Homo sapiens: one gene and its partners. The protein of the gene in region 4 interacts with the protein of the main gene of each other region in a biochemical or structural test. Each region holds a gene or a part of one and is shown on either strand. Other genes may lie near its edges.

Region 1 (7,025 bases), on a different chromosome or scaffold from region 4:
TCCCACTGTTTCTCTCTTTTGGGTGTTTCCATTTTGCTCTAGCTGGAACATTCTCCTGGCCAGATCTAGTGGGGAAAAAGTTCAGGTCTTTGTTTTTTTCACCTACCCTGATTGGTTAACTATAATGCTTCAAGTTCCTTTTCCTTCATCTTTTTCCAAATGACCATGCAATGCTGGACTCATTTTATCCAGTTTCTTTTGCCCCTTGGTCTCTCTGCCTGTCTGAATTGCTGCTGAATATCTACAGCTCCTTATTCTTTTATCCTCTGCAGCCCTATTTCCTGATATTGGTAGAGGCACAGTCCATAATGAGAAACTCTAGAAGGGAGTCTATTTTGCCCAACATCTCACAACTTAACTAGCAGCAGGGTAAAAATGAAGCCTCATTTCTTGGCTATTACTTTCTTTTCTACACCAGTCTTCATTCAAATATGATAACAGCTTAATCTGAGATAAAACTGAAAGGTTCCAAGGAACTGTATCATATCCTATGAATCTTTTTCTTCTTTCTCTTTCTTGACTGGCTACACTGACCTGCTTAAAAATAAGTGGCCATGGTCTCTTTTGCATTCAGGTATACAACAAACAAGCTGATGAGTATCTGAAAATATATACATGTGTACATATAGGCTTAACCACATAGATATTGATAAACACTGCTTATGCCACCTGCATTGGTATTTTTCATGTAGAAAAATAAAATGTTTTTTTCTAGGCTCACATTCTACTTGACTGTGGTGAAGACAATGTCTGTAAACCCAAGCTGGAAGTTTCTGTAGATAGGTAAGTTTTGCTTGAAATAATAATGTAGTAAGAAATTTAAATGGAAGGGCACATTTTTCTATTCAAAGGACTAACATATTTTAACGAGAATTAGTTATCCTGGAGGGTAATGCCTGATTTTCTATAACACTAAAACTATCAATATTGAGCTTCTAAAGAAAATATCCACTGTGTTTTCACTAGTTGCCTAGGTTGAAAGAGTTATTACCATTCAACTTTGGGTAATATCACAAAATAATATTGTATCATTTTAAAGATACACTTCATCATAAACATTCTTTGAACTCAAGGAATATCCTTACCATTTTGTAAGGCATATGAATTATAAAGAATATTGTGAGAATTATGACACGTGATTAATTTAGCTTTTAGAAAAATATTGGGGAATTACAAAGTACATGTAATTCACTTCAGTAATAGATATGAATGATAGTGATATATTAGTGGCATCAATGTTTATTTTTATTGAGAGAAGCATTCGATTTGCACCCAGTGTGCTATTTTCTGTTTTCTATCAAGCTGTGAAGTAGTCTTAAAATACCTTGAGACACTGTTGAACATGTCAGTGCTGTGTATTTATCTCTTCTTTCTTTGAACAGTCATACTTTCCCCATGTAGTCTTTTTTTCTCAGTCTGGATTTGTATTGTTAACTTGTAGTGATCAAAAGAAGATCTATATTGGGGATGACAACCCTCTGACATTGATTGTTAAGGCTCAGAATCAAGGAGAAGGTGCCTACGAAGCTGAGCTCATCGTTTCCATTCCACTGCAGGCTGATTTCATCGGGGTTGTCCGAAACAATGAAGTAAGCAGGCTGCCTCTTTAAAAATTGAAATGCACTCACGGATCTTATTAACATTAATGAGCTGTTCCCCTATTTAGTGAAGCACAAGCTTAGCTATTCTACCTAAGGCTAAATTGATAGACAATGGAGTGCCTATCTTACATAATTCCTTTTAAGCCTAATACTTTGCATAATGCATTGATATGACATTTTTAGAATTGCAAGCTAAGTGCCTGGAAACAAGGTTAGATAGATAAAGTGTCTAAGCCTGTCCATCAAATTATTTGTCAGAGGCTGTATGGTTTTGTATGGTAGTCCTCTAGGGATCTTTCAGAAACACTTCTGCATTTCCATGTGGCAATTGTACCCAATTCTGGCTTTTTCCTTACCTCCTGGTTTGCTCAACTAGATTTATTTGCTTAGGACAAGAAACTGAAATATCCAACTGCGTGATACTTTATTTCCTTTCATATCCATTTTTTTTTTTTTTTTTGGTCTATCAAAGGCCTTAGCAAGACTTTCCTGTGCATTTAAGACAGAAAACCAAACTCGCCAGGTGGTATGTGACCTTGGAAACCCAATGAAGGCTGGAACTCAAGTAAGACAATTTAATTAAACGGATTTTTCTCCCTGGCAAATAGAAAAGCATATTGTTGTCTGGGCTCATAGTAATTTTTAAAAATAAACACTTCAAAACAATGTCCTTAAATTGGTTTCGATATAATAGTTAAATGATTAGCAGAGTTTTGCTTAGTTTTAACTAAGATACGAAAACAATTGGTTGTGCTCCTACACGGTTTGCAATCAGCTGCTCTTTATGCCTCCTTCACTTTAGTGAATGGATGAGAACGTGGTTTAAACTAAGGACTGAAATAATAATTTTTGCTATTTTACACTGATGCCTTAATGGATCCTGAAAAGCTACTCTGGCAACTACCAAGACTGTCAATCCTAGGTGAGCTAGATTCCATCACAGGCCCCACACAGAGGATCAAAGTGAAGGTCAGTTAAATCAGGCTCCCCTTCAGATGGTGGAGCAGGGTGCCCAGGAGCTTGAAAAGAAGCAGCCAATGGCTTGCTTTCCGAATCCTCTAAAAAGTAAACAAAATATACCTTGTAGAATTTCTAGTAGCAAGGACAAAATGGCAGCATATGCTGTGTGACTTTTTCAATAGAATTTATTTAATGACTTATTGATACTGGTACTTTGAAGATCTGTGGTAATACAGGTCTAAATATTCCATATTTCTTTAGTATGTTTTCTATTACAAGTCATTAGTATTTCTAGATGTATGGTATCTTAGGGATGAGAACTTGAACAAATTACCCTAAGTTCAGTTTTTCACGTGTATTCAATGTTTTATTAACAATGAGCATGCCTTTTATTTTCTCATATTCTCATTCTCTCTAACTTTCTGGTTATTATATAGTTTCTGCTTATTACAAGTAGCCAGCTCCAGGTTTTGTGGAGTGGGAGGCAGAACCCAGGAAGTACTGTTTTTATATGTCATTTGTGTGATCCCCAAGAAGCCTTCTTTTTTGTACCTGGTGGTTCAATTGTTTTATTTAAAATCTACCAATTTTCTGCCTGCAGGAATTAGGATATTTGGTGTTGGGAGTGTTATGAGAGGTGTGTGGAGAAATTCTGGTTGTGGCCCTACTCATGCCTTCTTTAGCCATGTTCCCTTACTCTAGTAAACCATCCATTTCTTCTTTCCTGGCCTATGAACACAGCACATACTTTGGTGGTTAGCTTCGTGTTATCAAATTATTGTACCCAGTTGCTAGACTTTCACTGGATCAACAAACATTTACTTTTGCACTTTTTAGAAAGATGGTTAGTATTATAAGGAGGTATAATTATGATTAATAATTGTTGTTAAATAGGCTCTCTTATGGATTGGTCCAGGTATATTAAGTAAAATAGGTTTGATAGAAAATAAGATTTAGTTATCTTTGTTCAGTTTTATTGTAAGCTCAGAAAAACCCCATTTTAGAACATTATTTTTTATTTAGACATTGGATTTGAAATTTTGCTAATTAGACATTGACTAGCATTACTATCTTTTCCTCTCTCCTTTAGCTCTTAGCTGGTCTTCGTTTCAGTGTGCACCAGCAGTCAGAGATGGATACTTCTGTGAAATTTGACTTACAAATCCAAAGGTATGAAAACAACTTATATTCACTTATAACTATCAAATAAATATTATTTGTTGTAAATATACTATGTAATATACTTTAAATATAAAGTAGCAGATTAAATTTTATTGCTTGACTATAGCATTTTAAAATCAATATTTACATTATAAGAATAATTTTATTGTCAGATTTGAGTTTGTAAAACAAAATTTAAAATCCAGAAAGAAAATGTTCATCTTCTTGGAATTAAGTGTTAATGAAAATAACTATTTTGAGGTATAAGCTTTACACTTGTTTCGTTTGTTAATTTTTAGTTTCACTGGGTTTGCCTCTGTATGTTCTTGGTTGTTATGCATAATTCATTTTTAAGTTTTTTTTTTTCTTTTTCAGCTCAAATCTATTTGACAAAGTAAGCCCAGTTGTATCTCACAAAGTTGATCTTGCTGTTTTAGCTGCAGTTGAGATAAGAGGGTCAGTATGAATACTTAGTTGAGTATCTCATTCTCATGATTGCTTTTTAAAGGTAACTGTCAGGCCTTAGCCTTTTCTGGACAATAGACCCTGCATGTTTAGTGGTGGTTTTACTAGGGCATTAGCTTCTGTAGAAATAAAATCCTAGGTATGTTCCAAACCCCCAATACTGGGTGATCCTCAAAAGGAACAAGACATGGCAACAACATGCACAAAATAATTTTGTTGAACTTTTACACAAATTGTCAATTCACCTGTTACGTGTACATTTCATAAGAGCAGTTTTTGTGCATGTGTGTGTTCATTAGTTTTCTTTTAAAGTATTTTTTAAAATTAAATCTAATTTTATTTATTTGAGTAATGAATATGGGGTACTTTTGAAAATGAACTGACTATATCATTTTGATATTCATGGTAGGTTTTCTTTGGTCATTGTTTAGAGTCTCGAGTCCTGATCATGTCTTTCTTCCGATTCCAAACTGGGAGCACAAGGAGAACCCTGAGACTGAAGAAGATGTTGGGCCAGTTGTTCAGCACATCTATGAGGTTTGCAGTTGTTAGATTTTACTCAAACCTCGTGAGCAAGCCAACGAAGAGAGGAACAACTAAGCTACTTTAAAAAAAAAATTCTATGTAATTTTTATGTAAACTCTACATTGGTTAAGTATGTGTCAGAGATTTCTTTGAATATTTTCCCTATACATAAATTCATTTTTATTTGACAAATAGACTTGTTTAAATAAAGCAGTTTATATAATTTGTTGTTTAAAATAAATTAGTTCTACTTGAATAAAGAAATGTCATTGGTACTTTCTCATGGGCATTTTGTAGTTCTGGCTAAAAATTGAAAATACCTATGGCAAATAATCAAAACTATTTCTATAGGAAGAAATTTTCTTTGTCATCCTTCATTAATAACTTTTAAATATTTTGCCTTTTGTTTATACATACATACATATATATATATATATATATATATATATATATTTTTTTTTTTTTTTTTTTTTTTTTTTGAGGTGAAGTCTTGCTCTGTCGCCCAGGCTGGAGTGCAGTGGCGCGATCTCAGCTCACTGCAAACTCCACCTCCCGGGTTCAAGCGATTCTCCTGCCTCAGCTTGCTGAGTAGCTGGGATTACACGTGTGCACCACCATGCCCGGCTAATTTTTGTATTTTTAGTAGGGACAGGGTTTCACCGACAGGTTTCACCACGTTGGCCAGGCTGGACATGAACTCCTGACCTCAAGAGATCCGCCCGCCTCGGCCTCCCAAAGTGCTGGGATTACAGGCATGAGCCACTGTGCCCAACCTTGTTTATATTTTTATCCTGACACATATTACTCTGTGTTAGAGACAAATGTTGAGTTTGATCATTTTTGCATAAAAATGGTCACATTGTAATTAGAGGTTAACTGTGGAAATTGCTGTTATTTAAAACCTATTGCTAACATGATTTCTAAAGTTGATGTAGGGGAAGGATTATGGAACAGATTTTTGCCCAAGGTGTAGATACATTTTCTTTTTTCTCCTTAGCTGAGAAACAATGGTCCAAGTTCATTCAGCAAGGCAATGCTCCATCTTCAGTGGCCTTACAAATATAATAATAACACTCTGTTGTATATCCTTCATTATGATATTGATGGACCAATGAACTGCACTTCAGATATGGAGATCAACCCTTTGAGAATTAAGGTAATATGCTTAATAGCAGCTCTTCATTACAATGATATTTCATTGCCTTCTTTCTAAACCTGTAAAAGAAATTCATAAAATAAAACAACTATTTTAATATAAAACCCACTCTGCAAAAAATGGTTTAGTTCATAAGCAGTACACTTAGGATAAGTTCATTTGTATAATGGGTAAGAATTGATTCTGTGATGTCTAGTGAACCACATCTTCATAGAGTGCTTACTGAGCCTCATGAGATGTGTCCTTCAGTGACTCAGTTTGACCTTGGCTCCATCACGTTGTTGTTTCTTCAGGGCATAATATCACATCAAGGGTGTTTTGTTGTTAAAATTTCTACCTTTGGGATAAGCTATACCATTTTACTCATGATTATCTTGACTTTTGGATATAGTCATCTCCATCATAGATTTGCACTAGAAACTATTACACAATATGATCTAAGGAAAGGTGAAGAAACAAAATAAAAGATATACCCATGATTGACATCACAAATGTACTGTGGAATTTCAGGCCATTTCTGTATGTTTCATCAGTTTCCACTCTAGCTAAGCAAGGGCTGAAAATAATGGTTAGGGAGAGCTAACTTTTTTGGTACATATTAAAGACTCTAATCTTTATTTTCTGTCCTTACTGCTCACTATATACTGAGTGGTAAATATTCTGTCATACTAAATTTTCATTCACTATTTTTTAATCATATCTAAGAGTTTATATCAAAATGCTGATGTAAAATGTTTTTCATTATCATTTACCACCATTTTATTAATGTGATTGCATTAGATCTCATCTTTGCAAACAACTGAAAAGAATGACACGGTTGCCGGGCAAGGTGAGCGGGACCATCTCATCACTAAGCGGGATCTTGCCCTCAGTGAAGGAGATATTCACACTTTGGTAAGTGCCATTTCAAATATGTGCACCATAGACATTTAAAAATATGTGACTATAGAACTGACGCCAAAGAACATTTCAAAAATAACAACAGCTGTGCTTGAACAACTACATTTATTTTTATACCATGCATTCCTCTCACTTTCCTTTTTCCTAGTCAGATTAATGCCATATTTTCTTCAAATGAGCTATTTTTGTAGATGGCTAATAAAACTAGTTTATGTCCCAACTTTGATTCTCCTACTCTAGTTCTTTAACTGTCCTCT
Region 2 (7,293 bases), on a different chromosome or scaffold from region 4:
ACTGGGTGTGGTTGTGTATGGCTGAGTGTGGTTGTATATGGCTGGGTGTGGTTGTGTATGGCTGAGTGTGGTTTTATATGGCTGGGTGTGGTTGTGTATGGCTGGATGTGGTTGTCATTGGCTGGGTGTGGTTGTGCATGGCTGGGTGTAGTTGTGCATGGCTGGGTGTGGCGTGTATGGCTGGGTGTGGTTGTGCATGGCTGGGTGTGGTTGTGTATGGCTGGGTGTGGTGTGTATGGCTGGGTGTGGTTGTACATGACCAGGTATGATTGTGTATGGCTGGGTGTCATTGTGTATGGTCAGGTTTGGTCATGTGTGGTGGGTGAGACCTGTGTGTGGCCAGGTGAGGTTGCATGTGAGCCACCTGTGCTGTTAGTGTGGCTGGGGTGTGGCTGGGGTGTGACTGTGTGTGTCAGTGGTTGTTGGTGGCATTGTGTGTGACTTACCCATGTGTCACCTTGGGCATGTTCAGAGGCACTTTGGAGGCACTGTCCACCCCTGAGACCCAGCTCTCTTGGAGGGTCCAGCCTCCCTCCCCACCTCTGCTCTGGTCTGCCAGTACCATCCCCCACCCCTCCCCCACTGGCAGCAGCCCCTGGCCCAGGGCCCCAGTGGGGTGGTGGGGACAGAGAAGGCACTCAGGGCTGGGGAGGGGTGCCCAATCCCAGCTCAGGCCTATAAATAGCTCTTTGAGCCCAGTAGATTCCCAGGCAAGGTTGCCTCATTCAAGCCCCCGGCAACAGCCCGCCCCTGGGCCCCAGGCCAGCCCCTCTAAGCTCAGCCCTGGCACCAGCGAGGAGCCGGGGGGTGGGGGCAAGGGGTGGGGAGGAGTGGAGAAGCGGGGGAAGCAGAAGGATGAGGATAGGTGGGGTTGGGGCTCAGCTCTGCGCCCACAGACCTTGGCTTCCACCTGGTCTCTACTCACTCTGTACATCCTCGGGCAGGTGATCCTAGCTCCTTAAGCCTCAGTTTCCCCAGCACCTGTAAAATAAACAGCAGTCCCTGCCTGTGTGTTTACTTCCCATTTCATTCTCCAAGCAACCGGTAACGTAGGGACATTCATTATCCCCCATTTTATTTATTTATTTATTTAATTTTTTCCCAAGATGGAATCTCACTCAGTCACCCAGGCTGGAATGCAGTGGTGCCATCTTGGCTCACTGCAACCTCCACCTCCTGGGTTCAAGCGATTGTCCTACCTCAGCCTCCTGAGTAGCTGGGATTACAGGTGTGCACCACCCCACCCAGCTAATTTTGAATTTTAGTAGAGACGGGATTTCACCATGTTGGCCAGGCTGGTCTCAAATTCTGACCTCATGATCCATCTGCCTTGGCCTCCCAAAGTGCTGAGATTACAGCCTTGAGCCACCGCGCCCACCCTCCCCCCATTTTATTTTATTCATTTTTGAAATAGGGTCTCACTGTGTCACCCAGACCAGAGTACAGTGATGCAATCTTGACTCACTGCAGCTTTAATCTCCTGGGCTCCAGCGATCCTTCCCCCTCAGCCTCCCGAGTAGCCGGGACCACAGATGTGTGCCACCATGTCCTGCTAACTTTTAAGTTATTTTTTGTAGAGATGGGGGTCTCACTGTGTTGCTCAGGCTGGTCTTGAACTCCTGGGCTCAAGTGATCCTCCTGCCTCTGACTCCCAAAGTGCTGGGATTACAGGCATGAGCCACCGGCACCTGGACTATCCCCATTTCAGATGGGGAAACTGAGACACAGAAAGATGAGATGGCTCACTCAGAGTCACATTGTTACGAATGGCAGGGAGGGGGTTTGAACCCCAGACTTGTGGAGGCTGAGCTACTCGGTTCTCACGCACGTCACGCAGCTGTTCTCAGCGTCTTTCCCAGTGTGAGCCACAGCCAACCCCCCAGCACGCTCCAGCCTCACCGACTAGTCATTGCATGCTGTTTGGGTGCTGCTGACACAGCTGTCACCTGCAGACACTCACATCAGCTGGGATCCTTGACCTCCATCTCTCCTCTGTGACACAGAGTCAAACAGTCAGTGCAGCTTCCCGCTGTATCATCTTGGACCCCAGGGCTACCCCTTGCTCACCTGGGGTCCCCCCTTATCCCTCATTCATTCCTACCCTTTCTTTGATAATCTTTTTTTTTTTTTTTGAGATGGAATCTTGCTCTGACACCCAGGCTGGAGTGCAGTGGCACAGTCTCGGTTCACTGCACGCTCCGCCTCCCAGGTTCAAGTGATTCTCCTGCCTCAGCCTCCTGAGTATCTGGGATTATAGGTGAACACCACCATGCCTGGCTAATTTTTGTATTTTTAGTACAGACAGGGTTTCACCATGTTGGCTGGGCTGGGCTGGTCTCAAACTCCTGACCTTAGGTGATCTGCCTGCTTCAGCCTCCCAAAGTGTTGGGATTACAGGCATGAGCCACGGTGCTTGGCCTCCTTTCTTCTTCTTTTTTCTTTTTTTGATGGAGTCTCACTCTGTTGCCCAGGCTGGAATGCAGTGGCCCAATTTCGGCTCACTGCAACTTGCGCCTCCAGGGTTCAAGCGATTCTCCTGCCTCAGCCTCCCGAGTAGCTGGGATTACAGGCGTCCGCCACCACACCCTAATTTTGATTTATTAGAGATGGGGTTTCACCATGTTGGCTAGGCTGGTCTCGAACTCCTGACCTCAAATGATCTGTCCTCTTGGCCTCCCAAAGCGCTGGGATTATGGGCGTGAGCCACGGCACCTGGCCAAGGCCTCCTTTCTTTGATAACCTTGTGGAAGCTATCTTGTCCCTCATTTGCCTATCCTCCTACCAGATGGACACGCACCCTCAGAGATGCTAAACACACACTCACAGATATAGGACCCAGGGTGGAGCGCTGCGAGCCCATTCTCAGCACAGAAACACCACGACCATAGGAAGGAAGGCAGGGGCAAAGCCTGCCCTCTCTGGGCACATTTCCCTCCTCATGGCTTTTTTTTTTTTTTTTTTTTTTTTGAGACGGAGTCTCACTCTGTCACTCAGGCTGGAGTGCAATGGCATGGTCTCAGCTCACTGCAACCTCTGCCTCCTGGGTTCAAGCGATTCTCCTGCCTCAGCCTCCTGAGCAGCTGGGATTACAGGTGTCTGCCAACACGCCTGGCTAATTTTTGTATTTTTAATAGGGAAAGGGTTTCACCATGTTGGCCAGGCTGGTCTTAAACTCCTGACCTCAGGTGATCCACCCGCCTTGGCCTCCCAAAGTGCTGGGATTACAGGTGTGAGCCACCGAACCCAGCCCTCATTACCATATTTTTAATGGTGGTCAAATACAGATAACATAAAACTCACCATCTTAAAATGTGTAATTCAAGGCCATGCGCGGTGGCTCATGCCTGTAATCCCAGCATTTTGGGATGCTGAGGCGGGCGGATCATTTGAGGCCAGGAGATCGAGACCAGCCTAGCTGACATGGTGAAACCACATCTCTACTAAAAATACAAAAATTAACTGGGTGTGGTGGCAGGTGCCTGTAATCCCAGCTATTCAGGAGGCTGAGGCAGGAGAATCGCTTGAACCTGGGAGGTGGAGGTTGCAGTGAGCCAACATCGTGCCACTGTACTCCAGCCTGGATGACGGAGCAAGACTCCGTCTGAAAAAAAAAAAAAAAGATTGGGGTCTCATGTCTCATGGCAGGGACATGCCTATGCCTCTGCATAAAGCAAAATTATTCATGTGTCAACAGCAGTACCCAGTCCATAGAGTGTGCTACATAAATGCTGATCAGACAAAGGTGAATGAATGAATGATACAATCTGGCTGTAGTTGCTGGAAACAGCTCGGGGGTGTCACACACCTGGACTCCCACCCTGCGTGCCTCTTACCAGCTGTGTGAACAAGGAGTCTCCCCGTCTCGTCCGTGCCTCAGTTTCCTCTCTGTAAATGGGGTAAACCAGTAATTGTAGCCAAAACTGCTTTGAACGTGAGTCCTGGAGAATCAGGCAGGGCGAGGTTCGAATCCCAGCTCTGCCTCTGTGCGTGACCTTGGGAAGCGACTTTGCCTCCTTGGGGCTCAGTTTCCCCACCTGTAAAATGGGACGGCCTCATCCTGGGGCATAATGGGGACGTTTAACGCGGTTCCTGGGGCAAAGAGAATGGGAGGAGAATCGATGCCATCTTCTCCTGGGTGCGGTGAGTGTCCAAAAAATGGGCGGGGTGGGGATTTTAGGCAGGGGAGCCCCCTCCCTCGCGCAGCCAGAGGCCTCGGGCTGGCGGGGGCGCATGCGCAGAGAGCCCTCGCGGCCCCTTTATAAGCACTGAGGCGGCGCTGGGGCCAGCGGAGCGCAGGGCGCAGGGGCTGGACCCGGCGCGGAGCTGGCTGAGTCGGAGCGCAGCGTCCTTTGTGCCCGGCGGCCGCCCCGGGATGCGTCCGAGCTAGGAGCCAGGTGGGGGATCCGTGAGGGGGCCGTGTTGCGGGAGAAGACTTCGGGATTAGAGACAGAGCTCAGGATTAGGGAGAGGACCTGAGACCAGGGAGAAGTCCCCAGAATGGGGAGGGGGCTGAAGCGGGGGAGGGGAGCCCTAGGTTGAGGAGGGAGCGCGAACTGGGAGGGGGCTTGGGAATGCTAGGTGAACAGACATTTGGGGAGGAAGGTTGTCCGCGGAATCCGGAGACTACCCCCCGGTGGGGAGGGGGCCGGGCTGGGGGTGGGTCTCAGGGTTGAGGAGGGAGCAATGGGAAACAGGGCTAGGGGAGGGGCCCCCCGAGTTTGGAGGGAAGAAGAGGACACCCAGATGCCGAATGGGGGACTCTGGAACAGGGCACCCCCGTATCTCAGCCGAGACACCCCAGGATTTTAAGTAGGGATTCCCAATTTGCGGTTGAATGGAGGATTCCGGGCCGGACTGCAGTGGGGAGGGGGCCCCCAGATCACCCTGTGCCCAATGGAAGGGTATCTGCGCTGAGAGCGAACGGCCATGGGGAAGGGGCTCCCTGCCATCTCCCTGTCCTTTTGGGTCAGGTCCGGTCACCACGTTCTGACTCAGGGAGGAGGTCCTGGGGGTCCCCATCCCAACGTGGTTCCCCGTTATTCCCTTAGACCTTGGGTTGAGGTGTTGTCCCTTATCCCAGGGAACACACTGGGTGTCCCAGGTGAATGTTGGGTGGGGGTCCCCTAGACCCCCCAGCTATGGATCCCCAGGACCTGTGAGGGATACCAGCTCAGAGGGGGGGCTGTCCCCCAGCACCTTCACAGCCTCCCACGTCCTTACAGCATGACACAGACCCCTACCCCCACCCCCTTTAGTTCCACCTGTCCATATGGACACATGTGGAAGCGCTGGCTTGGTTTGGGGGCACAGGGGCTGGGAAGTAAGGGGCTGGGAAGTAAGGGCCCTGTCTGGGCAGGAGAGACCCCCATCCCTACGCGTGGGGCTTTGTTCCTCTCAGGCAGCATCAATGAGAAACAGCCAGGCCAGGGAGAGGGTTGGCTCTGGGCCCCAGCGGGGGACGTGGGGGCAGGGCAGGCAGGAAGGGGTGGGTGCACTGTGGGACCCCAGAACCCAGCCGTCGCAATAGCTGATGGACATTCTGAAATCAAGTTCCCCCTCAAGGATATGGGGGTTTTGTGTGTGTGTCCACCCCAGACAGGCAGGGAGGGGGAGTATGCCCAGGGGTTCTAGGGTCCCCTGTGAGTCTGATGTGACTGTGGTTGTGTCTTTGTCAGAAAACTTGTGCCGAGGGCCACATCACCATGTGGCAAAATGATGGGTGTCCATCGGTCACCAAGGCCACAATTATCCATCTCGGTTTGTGCCAGGGGCTGGCATCGCCGTGTGAGTGAGGAGCTATGTCTGATGCTGTTCCGTTCATCAAGGGGTTTATGTGGGGGGGGGGGGGCCCGAGACTGTGGGTGTGTGTCTTTGTGCAGAAGACACGCCGCCTGTCTTGTAAGTGCCCATATTGTCTCTCTTTGTTAATGTCACTGTGAATCTGTGTGAGTGTGTGTTTCCCCAGGGTCTGTGTCTGGGGTGCGTGGCTGTGTGTGTCCCGCTTGTGTATCTGGAGGGGCCAAGGGTTCTTTCCATGCGGTTGGCAGTGTGCACCCTTGGCACGGGGGTGTGGGACGTGGTCTGTGTTCAGAGTTGGGGCGCTAACAGGGAAAGCTTGAGCAGGGGTTGAAATCCCCAAGGGGAAGCCCGGGATGATGACTGAGCCCATCTCCCTTTCTCCTCCACGGAGTTCCACATTCACACCCATGCACACTAATACACCCTGACTCTCAGGTCAGAAACACACACATGTGCGCACAGCCCCCTGCTGAGGGTCACTCAGACTCACACACATCCACAGATCACACTAGGTCCCATGTGCTCCACCCGGTGCACGGAGCTGCTGCAGGCTCACACACACAACATGCACCCACCACATGGCACAACCGCCTTCACACCCTTGCCAGGACACAACACCCCGGACACACACCCAGTCACAAACACTCACAAATGCCCATTGGCAAACTCACCTTCACTCAGTGCTAACGGAGACTTGAGGTGGGGGTGAAGTGAAGGAGGGGACACACACACACTTACACACACACACTCACACACACTCTCTCACACACACACATTCACATGGATCCGAGCTGCCCCTCCTCCAGCACCCCGCAGGCCCCTGCTTGCATATGCATGAGGCTTGTACATTATTCATGAGGGCACGGGCCCCAGACAGCTGTGTAAATGCTCATCTCTGGCCGCCCTGGGGAGGAGGTATTTTAAGAGAAGGGTGTGGGTGTGTGAGGGTGCGAGTGGAAGGGAGTGGGAGGGTGTGTGTGGGGGGTGTGCACCTGAAACTGTGTCTGTCACCATGTTGGGCAACCTCAGTATATTTTTAGCGTATACATGAGGCTTTGTGTCTAAAGAGCTGTTTTTAAATTTAACATTTCTAGGACTTTGCAAGTCTTAGGTCATTTCATCCTCACAGTAGCTGCAGGTGGTACTTGCTGGATAATCTCCATTTTACAGGTGGGGAAACTGAGGCACAGAGAGATTGAAGCAGCTTGTCCCGGATTAGAAGCAGAGCTATCTGGATGTAGTCTGACCTGTTAACGGGGTGTGTGTGTGTGTGTGTGTGTGTGTGTGTGTGTGTGAGAGAGAGAGAGAAAGAGAATTCTCTGGCCTTGTCCTCTCGTAAGGCCCTGCTGGGGGCAGGTGCAACCCGGAGTCCTGTCTCTCTCTAATACCTGGCCAGGCCTGGAACAGCCATGAGGGGACCCCACACTTGCTCAGGGTTCCAAGGGGAAGAAATGAGAACAGCCTGGTGAAGGCAGAGGTTGCTGAGGTTTACAA
Region 3 (7,025 bases), on a different chromosome or scaffold from region 4:
TATTTTATCACAATTAATTTTTTTTTTTTGAGACGGAATCTCACTCTGTCACCCAGGCTAGAGAGCAGTGGTGCAATCTCAGCTCACTGCAACCTCTGCCTCCCGGGTTTAAGCAATTCTCCTGCTTCAGCCTCCAGAATAGCTAGGACTACAGGCACACGCTGCCACACCCTGTTAATTTTTTGTATTTTAGTAGAGATGGGGTTTCACCGTGCTGTCCAGTCTGGTCTCGAACTCCTGAGCTCAGACAATCCGCCCGACTCGGCATCCCAAAGTGCTGGGATTACAGGCATGAGCCACTGAGCCTGGCCCACAATAAAAATTTATAAAAGAAACAAAGCACTTAAACTAGGGGTAGGTTTGAGATGGGGGGAGGGCAGACCCAAACGACTGAGTGGTATCTGCAAGGGGTTCTGAGCGCTGGCTGGATGGCTGCTGTCAGCCTTGGGCTTCCCCGTCTCCTGTCTGCATGTTGAGCTGTCTGTCCATCCCTACAGCCAGGGAATGGGACCAGCAATGCAATTCTTTTGCATGTTATCTCAGACATCACTTTTCATGCCATATTCCTGTCTTCCTAGAATCAAGGGTCTTACTGACCCCATCACACACCTCCTCTAATGTCATGGCTGGAAGGAAATAAGAAGCCCTTCCTCGGGAGAATGCCAGAGGCCCTTGATTGAAGTCAAGGACATAAGGGATGACCTCCTCCCAGTCCCCAGCCCTCACCTTCGCCTTGCGTTTGCTGTCATCCATGATCATCTTCCAGTCCGAGCCGTTGTTGCTGTACCCGATCTTGAACTTCCTCATGAACACCTTGTTCTCTCGGTGCTTCCCACCCTGAATGATGATGCCCCTCACGATCTTCTCCTCCCCCAGGTCTATTTGGAGCCACTCATTGATGTAGGAATGAGGTGCGGGTGGAAGTGCCCAGCCAGAGCGACTGGTTACCAGGCGGATGTTTTCAGGCATCCAGTTTCTGTCCCCTTGGTTGGATGATGTGATCTGGGAGTCAGAAATAAGTCCAGACACCATACCCAACATTCCAGAGCAAGGATAATCTGGGAAGTGAAATGAAACAGATAATGTAAAATGATTTCCTGGGCGACTCCATGCTAAGAAATAAAATACAACATATGGAATAAAGACATGATTTTGTACCCAATCATATACAATTTTCAGTCTCTGGATTATTTTACAGTAAATCTTTCCTCCCTCAAACCTTCCTCCTGCTCTGTCAGAATTCCCGTCTCTAAACTCACATCCCAGTAAGGCAAATCTTCAATAAGAACATACATTTCCCCCGCTTTGACATCTTCTAAGTTTAACATTCATATTTCAGTCTCTTTGGTATCCAGAATTCATCCCTGGATCAAGTACTGGCCCTGCTTAAGAGAAGTTCATAGTTTATGATGGATTGGAGATATGCATAGAAGTCAATCCGATAGCAGGAAGGTTGCTAAAACAAAGGTAAAGAGACAGTGATGCAGAGGTAAAGAGAACGAATGCATACTCAGCCTGCAGAGGTAATAGAGGACCTCCCAGGGGAGGTGGCATTTGAATTGAGTGTGGGAGAATAGTGACCATGATCCCCCACAACTGTTCTCCCCACCCCTATTTCTAATTGCATTGGGGACTTTCCACATGAATGTCTCACTGTCATCTCAAATGTACCACAAGCAGACTAAGACAGTCCTTTCCCCTGGATACTGCATCTTTTCACTGAACCCTGTCTTTTAATTGGTGGCATCACCAATCATCCACTTCCTGCCTAGTCATCTCGTCATTTCCGTTTTGCTGCCAAATCCTGTTGTTTTTATTAAGTACAAGAAAGCAACAGAACTCTTGTTGCTACCTTCCTTTCTTCTGGATTTATCCTGATCCGAGCGCTCTGGCCAGGGTGCTACATCAGCTCTTGGTTGGCCTCCCAGACCCCACTTTGAATCTCCACTACACCAACTGCTACTTAAATTTTCAGAAAATGTTGTTTTAAGCATGTCATTCTCATCCTCAAAAATCTCCACTGCTAAGTGAAAGAAGCCCAACAAAAAAAGGACAAATATGGTCTGATTCCATGGATAGGAGTAGCCTATCACTAGATCAGTCAGATTCGTAGAGACAGAAAGCAAAATGGTGGTTGCCAGGGCTTGGGGGAAATGGAGATTGGGAGAGTTAGTGTTTCATGGGTGCAGAGTTTCAGTCTGAGACAATTATAAAATTCTGGAAATAGTGGTGATGCTTGCACAGCAATGTGACTGTACTTAATGCGACAGAATTGTACACTTAAAAATGTACAATGATAAAATTAAAATGGTTAAAAGTGGTTGAAAATTGTTAAAGCGGTAAATTTTATGTTATGTATATTTTACCCCGACAATAGAAAAGAGATATCTTTTGAAAATGTACCATGGTTTTCCATTATTGATAGGAAGATATCAAAACTCGATCTGGCATTCAAGACCCTCATTTTGACTTCATCCCATTTGCCTAATTTGATTTTCTATTACTGACAATACATCTCAGTTAAGCAATTCTCTTCTCATACAGTCTAGACGTCATCCTCATCATTGCCTTTGCTCAAAACCCAGCTTAAGACTCATGAAGAGAACTTTTCAAGCTACTCTAGCTTTTATTCTGAGCTCTCCCTTCTCAGAAATATGATGTAAGTAGCACAGAGCTCAGCATTCCACTGCTCTCTAAGGCTTTAAGATTGTTAGTCATGTACCCACAGCTAGATTATAAGATCTTCAAAGGCAATGAACAGCATCATAGACCTTTTTATGTCTTCTAAAGCAGCCCAAGGAGCTTCTGAGCACAAGGAGAGTATCAGTTGTTGATGAATTCAACGCTGGCTTAATGACAAAATGTCCAACACTTCAAGTATTTTCCTTTAGAAACTGTACATCCTAATCAAGAACATGTGCAAGAATGATAACCTATTTTTCTTTGAAGCAACTCAATTCTGCGTTATATAATAAAAATTTAGCCTAAAAATATAACTACCCCTAAGTGAGAGGCAAACATCTAATGCAATTAAACTAAGTCCACATTATCAGCTGAACCTTAAGAATTCATTACTCAGATACTTTCCACATGAGTTCTATGGTCCAGATCATGTCGTTTCTTTACTCAGACATTCAGTGCCTTCTTGTCTAGAAATTACGCACGTCATTTTCAGTCAGGCATGCAGGCCTTCCATGTCATGTCCTTGCAAGGCCTCTCCCCATTCACTCCTTTAACCAGTGCCAATTGGCATGAAGAACTTCCTTACTTCTGGGAGTTTGGGAGCTTTCTTTCTGTTCCCTCCACAAGGAATTCCCTGTCATGTTACCCTTTTCCATTATCTGAACTGCTTAAAATCCTGACCTGTTTTCAAATGCCACATCGTTTACTCAGTTTTTCTGTTCTCTGCAACTGGACACAGTTTTCCATTTCTGGGCCTCTTCACACCATTTTATCTGCATTTCCCTTCTTTCTTTCTTTCTTTTTTTTTTTTTTTGAGAAGGAGTCTCGCTCTGTCTCCCAGGCTGGAGTGCAGTGGGGCGATCTTGGCTCACTGCAAGCTCCACCTCCCGGGTTCACGCCATTCTCCTGCCTCAGCCTCCCGAGTAGCTAGGACTCCAGGCGCCTGCCACCACGCCCGGCTTATTTTTTGTATTTTTAGTAGAGAGGGGTTTCACAGTGTTAGCCAGGATGGTCTCGATCTCCTGACCTCGTGATGCCTGCCTCGGCCTCCCAAAGTGCTGGGATTACAGGTGTGAGCCACGGCGCCTGGCCCCTCTACACCCCGGCCTTTTTTTTAATTTTTATTTTTAGAGACAGGGTCTCACTCTGTCACCCAGGCTGGAGTGGAGTGGTGTGATCATGGCTCACTGCAGCCTTGAACTCTTGGCCTCAAGCAATCCTCCCACCTCAGTCTCCTGAGTAGCTAGGACTACATGTGGATGCTACCATGATTGGCAATTTTTTTTTTTTTGGTCTCGCTATGTTGCCCAGGCTGCTCTCAAACTACTGGGGTCAAGAGATCTTACCATTTTGGCCTCCCAAAGTGCTGGGGTCACAGGCTTGAGCCACCATATCCAGCCCTCAAATGCTGATGAGCACATTTAGTTCTTTGGAATGCTGCTTTCTGCCTCCCCAGATTTTAACTTCTTTGAGGACACGAACTAAGTCATATTTTTCTGTTTTATATGACTCTTCATGCCCTGTTTTATACATAGTATTTGCTCAACAAATATTTGTTGAATGAATCAACTTAATACAATGAAAGGCAGCTGTCATTTTCTCAATTGCCCTTTCCTGTAACTTAACCACAGTATTTGCTCCAGGCTGGGATCTGGAAACCAAGAATATACTCAGTCGGGATTAAAAAAAGATTTACAAAAACAATTTTACTAAGGGACTATGAAACTGTAGTGTTAAAAATAGAGTGCCATTTTTTGGCCACGGTGTTCATACCTGCCTGATTCCAAACAAGCTTTTAGAAAGGCAATGTTTAGCTGGTAATGGGGACCAGATGTTACCATTTGGAGGCAAACATAATTAACTTGAATACTGTAAGGAGAGCAGAACCGTCACCAGATTAATGCCCTTTCTCTAATGCAGACTCGGCTGGGGCACAGTTTCTGTATTCATAGACTTAGTGATGCCCTGTCCCCATTTAGCCAACATATCCATGGTGCAAAGTGAGACTGTTATTCCTTCCATATAGCTGCCTCATTAAAAAAAAAAAAATGAAGAGGCAACTTGATTTACCTTTGACTGAAAACTATGTGACTCACTTTTAACAATAATTTGCAGAAAAATTACATTAACAATTAATTCAAGGTTTGAATGAGATGCTAGCGTTTAACTCTGTCCCTTCATAGCAGGCTGGTACAGGTCAGCCCGGTGCAGGTCAAACCCTTTGGAAATAGTGTTGCCAGATTTAGCAAATAAACAACAAAACAAGAAACAAGATGCCCAGTGAAATTAGAATTCAGAGAAATAATGAATAATTTTTTAGTACACATATGTCTCAAATATTGCATGGGACATACTTATTCTGAAAAATTATGTCTTGTTTGTCTGCGTCAAATTTAACTGGACATTTTGTATTTCACTTGGCAGCCTTGTTTGGAAAGCTTAAGACCACTTCAGGATGGAAGGGAGAAATGAGTTTTGTAATGGAGGATTGAGGTCGTTATTTTCAGTGATATTATTTTACAGTAAATCTCTGTACTCAGCTTTAATGGAAAAACTGAGGTATACTGGTAAATCAAATATCCAGTTAACCAATTTCCAACGAATGAGAAAGTAATAACTGCATTCGATGGGAGACCCTGAATGAGCATAATTTAATCTCTCCTTGATGACTCAGAAAGTACCTCTGGATATTATGGTGTCTGAGATCATCACTGTGAATTCTGATTGACTTAGGAGCACATGAATATGTGTTGAAGCGCTGGGTAACAGACTTCTGGTTAATAACAGAAGATAGCAGAGTTCAGAGTGTGTTAAGCAGCCATTGCCCAACGTGATTTCCATCTCTGCCAAAATGATGAAGCCTACTTTGTCAAAATAATGAAAATGCCCTTCATCAATCACCTATAAAGCAGAATGGTTTGTTCCAATCTTATTTTCTTTATATCTCTATATGGTGACAAACTCTGAATTTTCCAGGATTACTATATTTCTTTTTTCTTTCTTTTTTTTTTTTTTGAGATGGAATCTTGCTCTGTTGCCCAGGCTGGAGTGCAGTGGCCAGTGGCACAATCTCGGCTCACTGCAAGCTCTGCCTCCTGGGTTCACGCCATTCTCCTGCCTCAGCCTTCTGAGTAGCTGGGACTACAAGTGCATGCCACCACACCTGGGTAATTTTTTGTATTTTTAGTAGAGATGGGGTTTCACTGTGTTAGCCAGGATGGTCTCAATCTCCTGACCTCGTGATCCACCTGCCTCGGCCTCCCAAAGTGCTGGGATTACAGGAGTGAGCCACTGCGCCCAGTCCAGGATTACTATATTTCTAAAAAATAATTTCTGAATCAAAAAATTAGGGTAAAACTTGGGGCTTTAGTGGCTTTGGAAGCCAAGTGATGTGTTCAAGCAGTAACCTTTCATTAGGTAGGCTTAAACAAAATCCAGATTGAATTGTGACTACTCAGCAGGGTGAAAATTTGAGGTCCAGCCGCTTGTTTCTCAGAAGGCGTGCATAAAACTGCACTTCCTTCATTCAAAAGTAACCACCAAGCATTTGTTATGTTCCAGGCATACAGGACACAACAGAAAATGAGGCAAACAGGTCCCCTGCTCTCCTGGACCATCTAGTCCAGCAGGAATACTGTAGTCCTCCTTTCATTAATCTCTACTCAAGGGGACCTTTGATTTTCATTTCAAGAAAATGAAAATTATCTGCTTCTGATAATCAAGAAGAAAAACTTGAAATTACTGTCTTATTAGAGGCTCTGCTTGCTGGGGCATATGCTAGGTTCAATATATTGAGTGCCATGTACTATTTTAGTCTAACGGGTACCATTTAGTGAGCACTTAGTTTAAGCCAGGGGTGTTCCAAATTTCCTCTCATTGACTCCTCATTATAGTTGCATTAAGGTGATCCTCACAGACCAGAAAACGGAGATCAGAGTGAGTCTCAATGTCTTATCCATGGTCCGTCATGCATACACTAAGTGGACAGTCCACAGTCAAGCCTGGATATGTCTGCCTGCCTTCTGTCCATGTGACTATCGTAACGTGTTAGCCTCTCCAAAAACCTGCTTCTGGCAATTATTTGGAGACTAGAGACATTTTACTAGAGAGAAAATATTTAAAAGTATAGTGGAGACCATGATTAAGAGACTAGCACTAGGAACTGAAAGGAAGCACCTTATTTGAAAAATAGCTACTTAATTATGTATGAAAATATTAGGATATGCTATTTTAGACATCTAAGTTTACATAACTAGATCATTTAACTATTTTTAAAAATTGAACAAATTATTTACCTTCTTTGCTCACATTCCTAGCATCACCTCTCAGGGAAATCCTTGTGA
Region 4 (6,904 bases):
CTTGAAGTCAGCGAGACCAAGAACCCACTGGAAGGAACCAACTCCAGACACACCTTCACTGATACAATGTGGGGGTGAGGCCAGGTGCAGTGACTCACTCCTGTAATCCTAGCACTTTGTGAGGCCAAGGCAGTGGATCACCACTTGAGCCCAGGAGTTCAAGACCAGTCTGGACAACATAGTGAGACCTCACCTCTACCAAAAAAGAAAAAAAAATTAATCAAGTGTGGTGGTGGCACATCTGTTGTCCCAGTACTTGGGAGGCTGTGGTGGGAGGATCACTTGAGCCCAGGAGGTCGAGGTTGCAGTGAGCCATGATCACACCACTGCACTCCAGCCTAGGGAACAGAGTGAGACCCTGTCTCAAAGTAATAACAACACTAATAAAAAATAATAAAGTGGAGGTGGGGGAGAGAGATGGGGAAAGCAGGACAAATAGAAAGCAAATACTCACCTGGCGTGACTACATCCAGAGATAGCAGCAGTCATCACCGTGTGACCAGCTGACCTGCACAGTTCAAAGACAAAGGCAGGTTCAACATCAATCTACCACTTGACTGAACAATCCACTCCTAAGCGGTTACCTTAGAGAAATGAAGACACACATTTACACAAGCTTGCATATAAATGTTTAGAGCTGCTCCATCATAATCACACAAAGCTGGAAACTACCCAAGTGTCCTTCAGTGAGTGAATGGCTGAACAAACCCTGATCCAACCAAACAATGGAATACTACTCGGCAATCAAAAGGAAATATACTGCTCTCTCTCGCCCGCATGCTCTCTCTCTCTCTCTCTCACACACACACACAAACACACACACCAACATGGATGAAGCTCAAAAAGTATGCTGCGTGAGTGTGAAAGAAGCCAGACAAAAGAATATATACGGTATGATTCCATTTATAATAAAATTTAGAAAAGACAGAAATCAGATCAGTGGTGGCCAAGGGCAGGGGGTGGTGGGAGTGGTTGGCTGCACACAACATTCACCAAAACTCCTTGAACTGTAAACCTCAAAAGGATGAATTTTACTGTATGTAAATTATACTCCAATAAAGTTGATTTTTTTTTTTTTTTTTTTGAGACAGGGTCTCACTCTGTCACCCAGGCTGGAGTGTAGTGGTGTGATCATGGCTCACTGTAGCCTCAACCTCTTGGGCTCCAGCGATCCTCCCACCTCAGCCTCCTGAGTAGTTGGGACTACAGACATGCACCACCATGCCTAATTTTAAAATTTTTTTTGTAGAGACGTGGTCTCGCTGTGTTGCCCAGGCAGGTCTCAAAGCTGATTTTTAAAAAGACAAGAATTGTTAGACAGAATCAAACCAAACCAAAACCCAACTATGTGCTGTTTCCAAGCGCTACACCTGAGATATGAAGACACAGAAAGATTGAAAGGAGAACAGAGAAAGACACGTCTGGCTGAGCCCACCCCGCCTGCCTGCTGGCACTTCCTTACTGCCCCACTGTCGTCTGTGGCTTCTGCGTCTTCTGCATGCTCATCACAGGGTCAGAGTCTGGGGCTTCCCTTGTCCAGTCCACTGTGTCTATGAGGGCTGGGTCACAGGGAGCAGGGCTGTGAGAAGCACTTGACGTTGAAGGGAAAGAGACAGTCATCTGTCTACTTGGTGTCCCCCTAACCTCCAACAGCAAGCACATGGCAGTGGGGGGGTGGCTTGCCTCTTGTTCAGGGCCAGTCCCTCCTGCTTCTCCTGGGACTTGCTCTGCCCTTGGTCTTCTGTCACTCTTGCTCTTGCTCCCATTGGCTCCTCCACTTCATTACATGGAAGTGAGAATGGGCATCGTGGTCAAGCAGAAGGGAATTCAAGTCCGAGTTCTGCCATTTACCTTCTGGGCTATCTTGGGTGGGTCATTTGACCCCTCTGAACCTTGGTTTCCTCATCTGTGAAATGGGGGCACTGATAGTGCCAATTTCTTCCTGGTTGCATGACTGCCCCTCTCTGGACCTTGGGTACCTCACTGGGAGAGTGAGGATAATAACAGCACCATCATCTGGGGTGTGTGTGTGGATGCAATGAGCCAGTGGAGAGAAAGAGACCTTCCTAACTGTGCTTGCTGGACCCAGCCTTGAGCTCTGTGGGCTTTGGTTTTCTCATCTGTAACGTGGGGCGAATGCTTCAACAGACCTCCCCAGGTTGGTGTGCAATTTAAATGTGCAGGAAATGTAACGATGGCAGGTCCATGGCTGTGCTCAGGAAATGTGATGTCGTGTAATCCTAGTAATGAATTTTTTGTTACCATAAATGGACCCATCACTACACATTAGCAGGTGCGTATAAACGGGCTCTATTCCCTGCTTACTTCACCATCCTGATGGGCATCAAACCCTAGATTAGGTAAAGGATTTGCAGAAGTTGGGGCTTGGAGGAAAGGCTGGGAACGTAGGGAGTGAGTGGAGGCAGCAACTGGAAAGGAGAGAGGCCTATCAGAGTTCAGATCAGCAAAGGCAGGAAGCTGACCACAGCTCAGTGCCTCATGGAAAGTACGCCCTCTTGGCCCAGCTCATGAGCCTGCTGGCCTCGTGACCCAGGCGGGCTCAGTTTCCTCTGCTGTCACCTGAAGATGCCCTGCAAGTGCCCCCACTCTGGAAGCAGTCTCCCTAGCCGTCCGTCTTCACTCAGGTGCCTAGTCTTGTCCATTCTCCTCCTAAAGGCTGGGCAAACATGGCATCCAGACCCTCTCTGAGCACAGATGGGTCCACCCCAAGCTTCCCATTCCAGGGGAACTGAAGCTGGCACTATGGGGGTGGGGCATCCAAGCCAGGATGCCAGGGCTGCTCCCATGTGGGCCCTCCAGGGCCCCACACCACTTGGGGAGTCTTGTGAGACTGAGTCGAGGGCCCCTGGAATGCTTCACTGGGCAACAGGCATGCCCATAAAAATACCGTGGCCGCCAGATCTGCAATCTGCCATCGGGGCCCTAGGCCTTCCTAGCCCTGAGGCTGCAGCCAGCTCGCCGGCTCCGGAATTCTTACCCCCTCCATTTTGCTTCCTCGCCTGTGAGGTCATGGCCTTGAGCCTAGGAGGGGGCACTGGGGAGGAGCTCCTTCCTTCTCGATCCTGTGCAGGGCTGCGGGGGAGAGTGGGAGAGAGTGGAGTCGGCGGGAAAGGTCGAATGGGGCCAATCCCGAGGACAAAGAAATAAGACACCAGAGAGCTGGAGGAAAATCTGGGAGTTGGGGGTGGCAGTTCGAGGGATACCCTCTCCCAGACCCTGTCTCCCCTGGGCTCGCCTCCTACCCTGCCGCCCACCTGGGCTCTGGGGTGCGCAGGAGCCGGTGCTCCGCGGCGCCTCCCCAACACGCTGAGGACGAAGCCCCCGCACCCCTCCCAACAGGACCCTGACTGGGCCCTCAGGATCGGGGGGCATTCGGGAGAGGTCCCGGGAGTCCTGCCCTGTGTGTGTGTGTTGGGGGGGCGTTGCGTGCAGGTGCCCATCGCTGGCCGGCGCCGTCGAGGGCCAGGCCGAGGCTAAGGGAGCATCCCCTTCCTTGCCGGACTCCTCTCTCCACCGCCCGGCCCCAGGCCTCTGGGAGCACTCTCGCCCCGCGATTCCCGCTCCGAGCTTTCACAGCGGGCTCCCTTGCGCTGGGGCTGAGGACACTCTCCGGCCGGAGACTCCCGGTCTGCGGGGAAGGGGGTCTGGCGGGACCCGTCGGCTGGGGTCCCGCTGAGCTCCCGGAGTGGGCTGCCCGGGGGCCCCCAGCCCAAGCCGCGCTCGGCTGGCACCAGGGGCTAGGGTGCGGCGGGGCGGGGCGGGGCGGGGCGGGCGGCCGGGGAGGTGATCTCACTCCTCCCTCCCTCTCCTCCCCGGCGCTCCCCTCCCCCGCCCCTGCGCGCACGCCCGCCCCGCCCCGCCACAGCCGCTGCTGCCGCAGCATCGGCATCGCAGACGCGCTCGGGCGGCGGGTCCGAGGCCGGCGTGCGCGGAGGCTGGGCGGGCAGCCCGAGCGGTGGCCGCAGCGCAGGTAAGGCGGGCTGGCCTCCCCGTGCGACCCGGGCCGCGGCCGCGATCCCCCGGCGACACCACACCGCTCTGCCCGGGGTGCACGGACCAGGGAGTCCCGGCCCGGTCCGGCCCGCGGTAACCGGCGTTGCTGCCGGAGCCCCACCCATGCCGGGCGTCGGGCTCCGGGCACCGCGGGCTGTAAGCGGGGCGGGGGAGGGATGCCGGGTGCCCGAGCCCGACAGGTGAGGGGTAACCTGCGGGGCCCCAGATGCTGGCCTGGGCGGGAGAACAGGGCGGGGGGCGTCAGGCAGGGTCTGTGTGGGCAGGCGGGGGCTGAAGTTGGCGGGTCCCCGTGCGTGTGTGCGTGTCTGAGAAAGGAAGCCAGATCGGGTCGAGCGCTCCCCCACAGGCCGCCGTGGGGTGTGGCCCTGGGCGTGGCTGCCCCTCATCCCCAGCCGAGAGCTCAGTTTGGTTGAAAATCCCGGCTGACAGCGTGGTGAGGGGTAGATCGGGATAAGCCGCCCCTGCAATGGGGGGAGGGGAGTGAACGGGACTGGGCGCTGCCTGCCCCTCCGCCCCAAGGTTGGGGGGGCTTTGTTCTCCTCCTTCTTCTTTCCAAATCCCAGCCTGGGCTCCTCCGGGCTCACCCGAAAACCTGCCGCAGAGCCAGGGGCTCCTCCCCGGAGGCGTAGGGCGCCTCTGGAGCCCGTTTCCACAGGCTCTGTGGCCAGTCAGGGCTGGAGTGGGTGAGGTCGGTTCGGGCACCCACTGCTGTGCCTCCCGTGCATGGGTGTCCATCAGGTAGGGTCCATCAGGTAGGGGTGAGGGAAGGTGGGCCTCACTGGCTCAGGCGGTCCCTGCGCACTGCAGGTCTTTTGCCCACTGCCACATCTTCCTATCTCTGTGCGGTTATGGGAGGGGTCAGCGATTCCTATTCCCTCCATTCCAGGTCAGACTTTTGGGGCCTCTTGGTTGGCAGGGATTGCAAAGAACACGCACTACAATCCATTGCCCCCGACAGGGTATCTGGACCCCCCACCTATCACTGTCCCTCTCAGGAAGGCAGGCCTAGAGCCATCTGCCCCCTTCTCCAGAAGGAGTGGGGGCCTGGCACCCCCCAGGTAGATACCCTGCCCCTGTTAACCCCACCCTGAGGGCAGGGGCATCGGGGCAGCCCAGTGCCATCTCTGCTGACTCATGTGGCCCTGACGTAAATCAGTGCAGTCCGCCCTTCTTCCCCTGGGGGCTGCTGCCCAGCATCATCTTTCTGGGGCGGGGGCCTCCCCAGGGCCTCTCCCCTCCCGTCAGCTCCTTGCTGCAGGTGGTGGGACTTGGCCCAGCCTGGCCTCTCCCCTGGCACAGCTCCCATGCAGTGCCCACATGTGCACACCTGAGGGCTCCAGAGCCTTTGAGGACTCGGCTGTCTTGGCCACATGGGAAGTTTGGGGCAGGGTTGGGCCTGGGACCTTCCCACCTCCTTGGCTCCTGGTCATTTCTCTCTGCTGCATCTGAGTCTCTCTCCATATTTATTGATGTTTGTGTGTGTATGATCCCGAAAGTAATACATCTTATTGTAGGACACTTGAAATATACAGAAAAGAACAAAAGAAATTAAGAATCGCTAGTGATCTGATCACCAAGAGGGAAACACGTTCAGCACGCCCCAGCCTCCCTGGTTTGCTACACCGCGCTCCTAAAAGGCTCCTCCCCAAGTTCCCAGCTGCCAGCTCCCTGCTGAGCATCAGGAGGACAATCAGCGCTTCAAGGTGGCGGGGTCCCCTGCCCTGCAGCCAGTGAAGAGCTTCCCTACCCAGGCGCTCAGGATCCCAGCGATGGGCAGTCGTGTACTGGGCAGCTGCTCATGGCCAGTGCTCCTTTGGGCCGGGCTCTGGGCTGCCCATGGAAGAGCCAGTGACAAACTGGACCAGCATTGTCCCTGTCTTCGTGGGGTGTCACTTGTTTTCTTTTTTCTTGATGATTATCTGAAGGGAAAAGGGAGGCAAAGAGTGAGGAAGGGCCTGGCCTGAGGGCTCCTACAGTGAGCAGGGTGCCCAGATTGTGCCCCCAATCGGCCTCTCCCAGGTCCGAGCCCTTTCCACCACTGGAACTACAGCTGGCGCCTTCCTTGGCATGCACCTGGCCAGGACTGGCAGGTGAGGGTCGAGGAGACAGGCCTGTGTGCCCTACCTTGATCACCAAGTTCCCTTTCAAAGCTCGAAATGGCTGCACTGAGTGCTTTTCTGGGTGTGAGGGTGATGCGGCCTCGCAGAGTGGCCCAGGCTCCAGGAGGGCACGTTCATGGGAGAACCTGGGGTAGTGGTGGGGTCCTGTGAGGAGGTCTGCCAGGATGGGGATCCCAGCCAAGACCCTGGTCTGCCAGGCATGAGTGGGGGCATGAGTGGGGGCCCTGCCTCCCTCCCTCGTGGTTCAGACAGTGGGGGAGGCGGGGGGTCTGGATGCCCTTCTAGGGTCCCCAGCAGGGTGCTCATTGCCCTGTCCTCTGCCCCTGCAATGGGCTGGGGCTGGGTCCCTGGGTGGGGCCATCTGGAATGGGCCTGCAGCATCCCTGCCCCTGCAGTCGCTGTCTTACTTGCTCTGATCTGGCCCATCTCGGACACCTCCTTCTCCTGCTTCCCCCGCCCCCCTGCTCTCTCCTCTGCAGCCTCCCACGTCTCCCTGTGCCCCACCCCCAGGGCCATCACCTTCCTCCTCCTTCTAGGCAGAAGCCTGCTGCTGCCGGGGATGGGGTGCACCACTCCCCGTCTCCTCCCTCTGCCTCTGCCTGCCTGGCCCTCCCTTCCCTCTTCCCCCTTCCCGTCAGGGCTCTGCTCCATCTCTCTGCTTACCCTTTTGTCTGTCTTCCACCGCTCTGCTCCTCTCCTTGTCCCCCCCAGCTGCCCCTGCCTCACCCTTGAGGGCCCTGAGGTTGTGC

What was found.
Region 1: the proteins of L1CAM (region 4) and ITGAV form a complex in vitro, tested with the Homo sapiens proteins (one study listed by BioGRID).
Region 2: the proteins of L1CAM (region 4) and NCAN form a complex in vitro, tested with the Homo sapiens proteins (one study listed by BioGRID).
Region 3: the proteins of L1CAM (region 4) and NRP1 form a complex in vitro, tested with the Homo sapiens proteins (one study listed by BioGRID).

The regions. Positions count from the first base shown.
Region 1 is NC_000002.12:186,663,053-186,670,077, forward strand, and holds part of ITGAV (integrin alpha-V isoform 1 preproprotein), read left to right. Parts: intron 1-715; coding exon 716-783; intron 784-1,441; coding exon 1,442-1,589; intron 1,590-2,073; coding exon 2,074-2,166; intron 2,167-3,651; coding exon 3,652-3,731; intron 3,732-4,097; coding exon 4,098-4,178; intron 4,179-4,618; coding exon 4,619-4,724; intron 4,725-5,709; coding exon 5,710-5,868; intron 5,869-6,648; coding exon 6,649-6,762; intron 6,763-7,025.
Region 2 is NC_000019.10:19,207,671-19,214,963, forward strand, and holds the start of NCAN (neurocan core protein precursor), read left to right. Parts: upstream 1-4,287; 5' UTR 4,288-4,394; intron 4,395-7,293. UniProt on the Homo sapiens protein: May modulate neuronal adhesion and neurite growth during development by binding to neural cell adhesion molecules (NG-CAM and N-CAM). Chondroitin sulfate proteoglycan; binds to hyaluronic acid.
Region 3 is NC_000010.11:33,212,660-33,219,684, forward strand, and holds part of NRP1 (neuropilin-1 isoform a precursor), read right to left. Parts: intron 1,163-7,025; exon of another isoform or gene 1,059-1,162; coding exon 727-1,058; exon of another isoform or gene 579-726; intron 1-578. UniProt on the Homo sapiens protein: Cell-surface receptor involved in the development of the cardiovascular system, in angiogenesis, in the formation of certain neuronal circuits and in organogenesis outside the nervous system. Mediates the chemorepulsant activity of semaphorins.
Region 4 is NC_000023.11:153,883,152-153,890,055, reverse strand, and holds the start of L1CAM (neural cell adhesion molecule L1 isoform 1 precursor), read left to right. Parts: upstream 1-3,882; 5' UTR 3,883-3,991; intron 3,992-4,078; exon of another isoform or gene 4,079-4,248; intron 4,249-4,619; exon of another isoform or gene 4,620-4,693; intron 4,694-5,782; exon of another isoform or gene 5,783-6,108; intron 6,109-6,159; exon of another isoform or gene 6,160-6,345; intron 6,346-6,904. UniProt on the Homo sapiens protein: Neural cell adhesion molecule involved in the dynamics of cell adhesion and in the generation of transmembrane signals at tyrosine kinase receptors.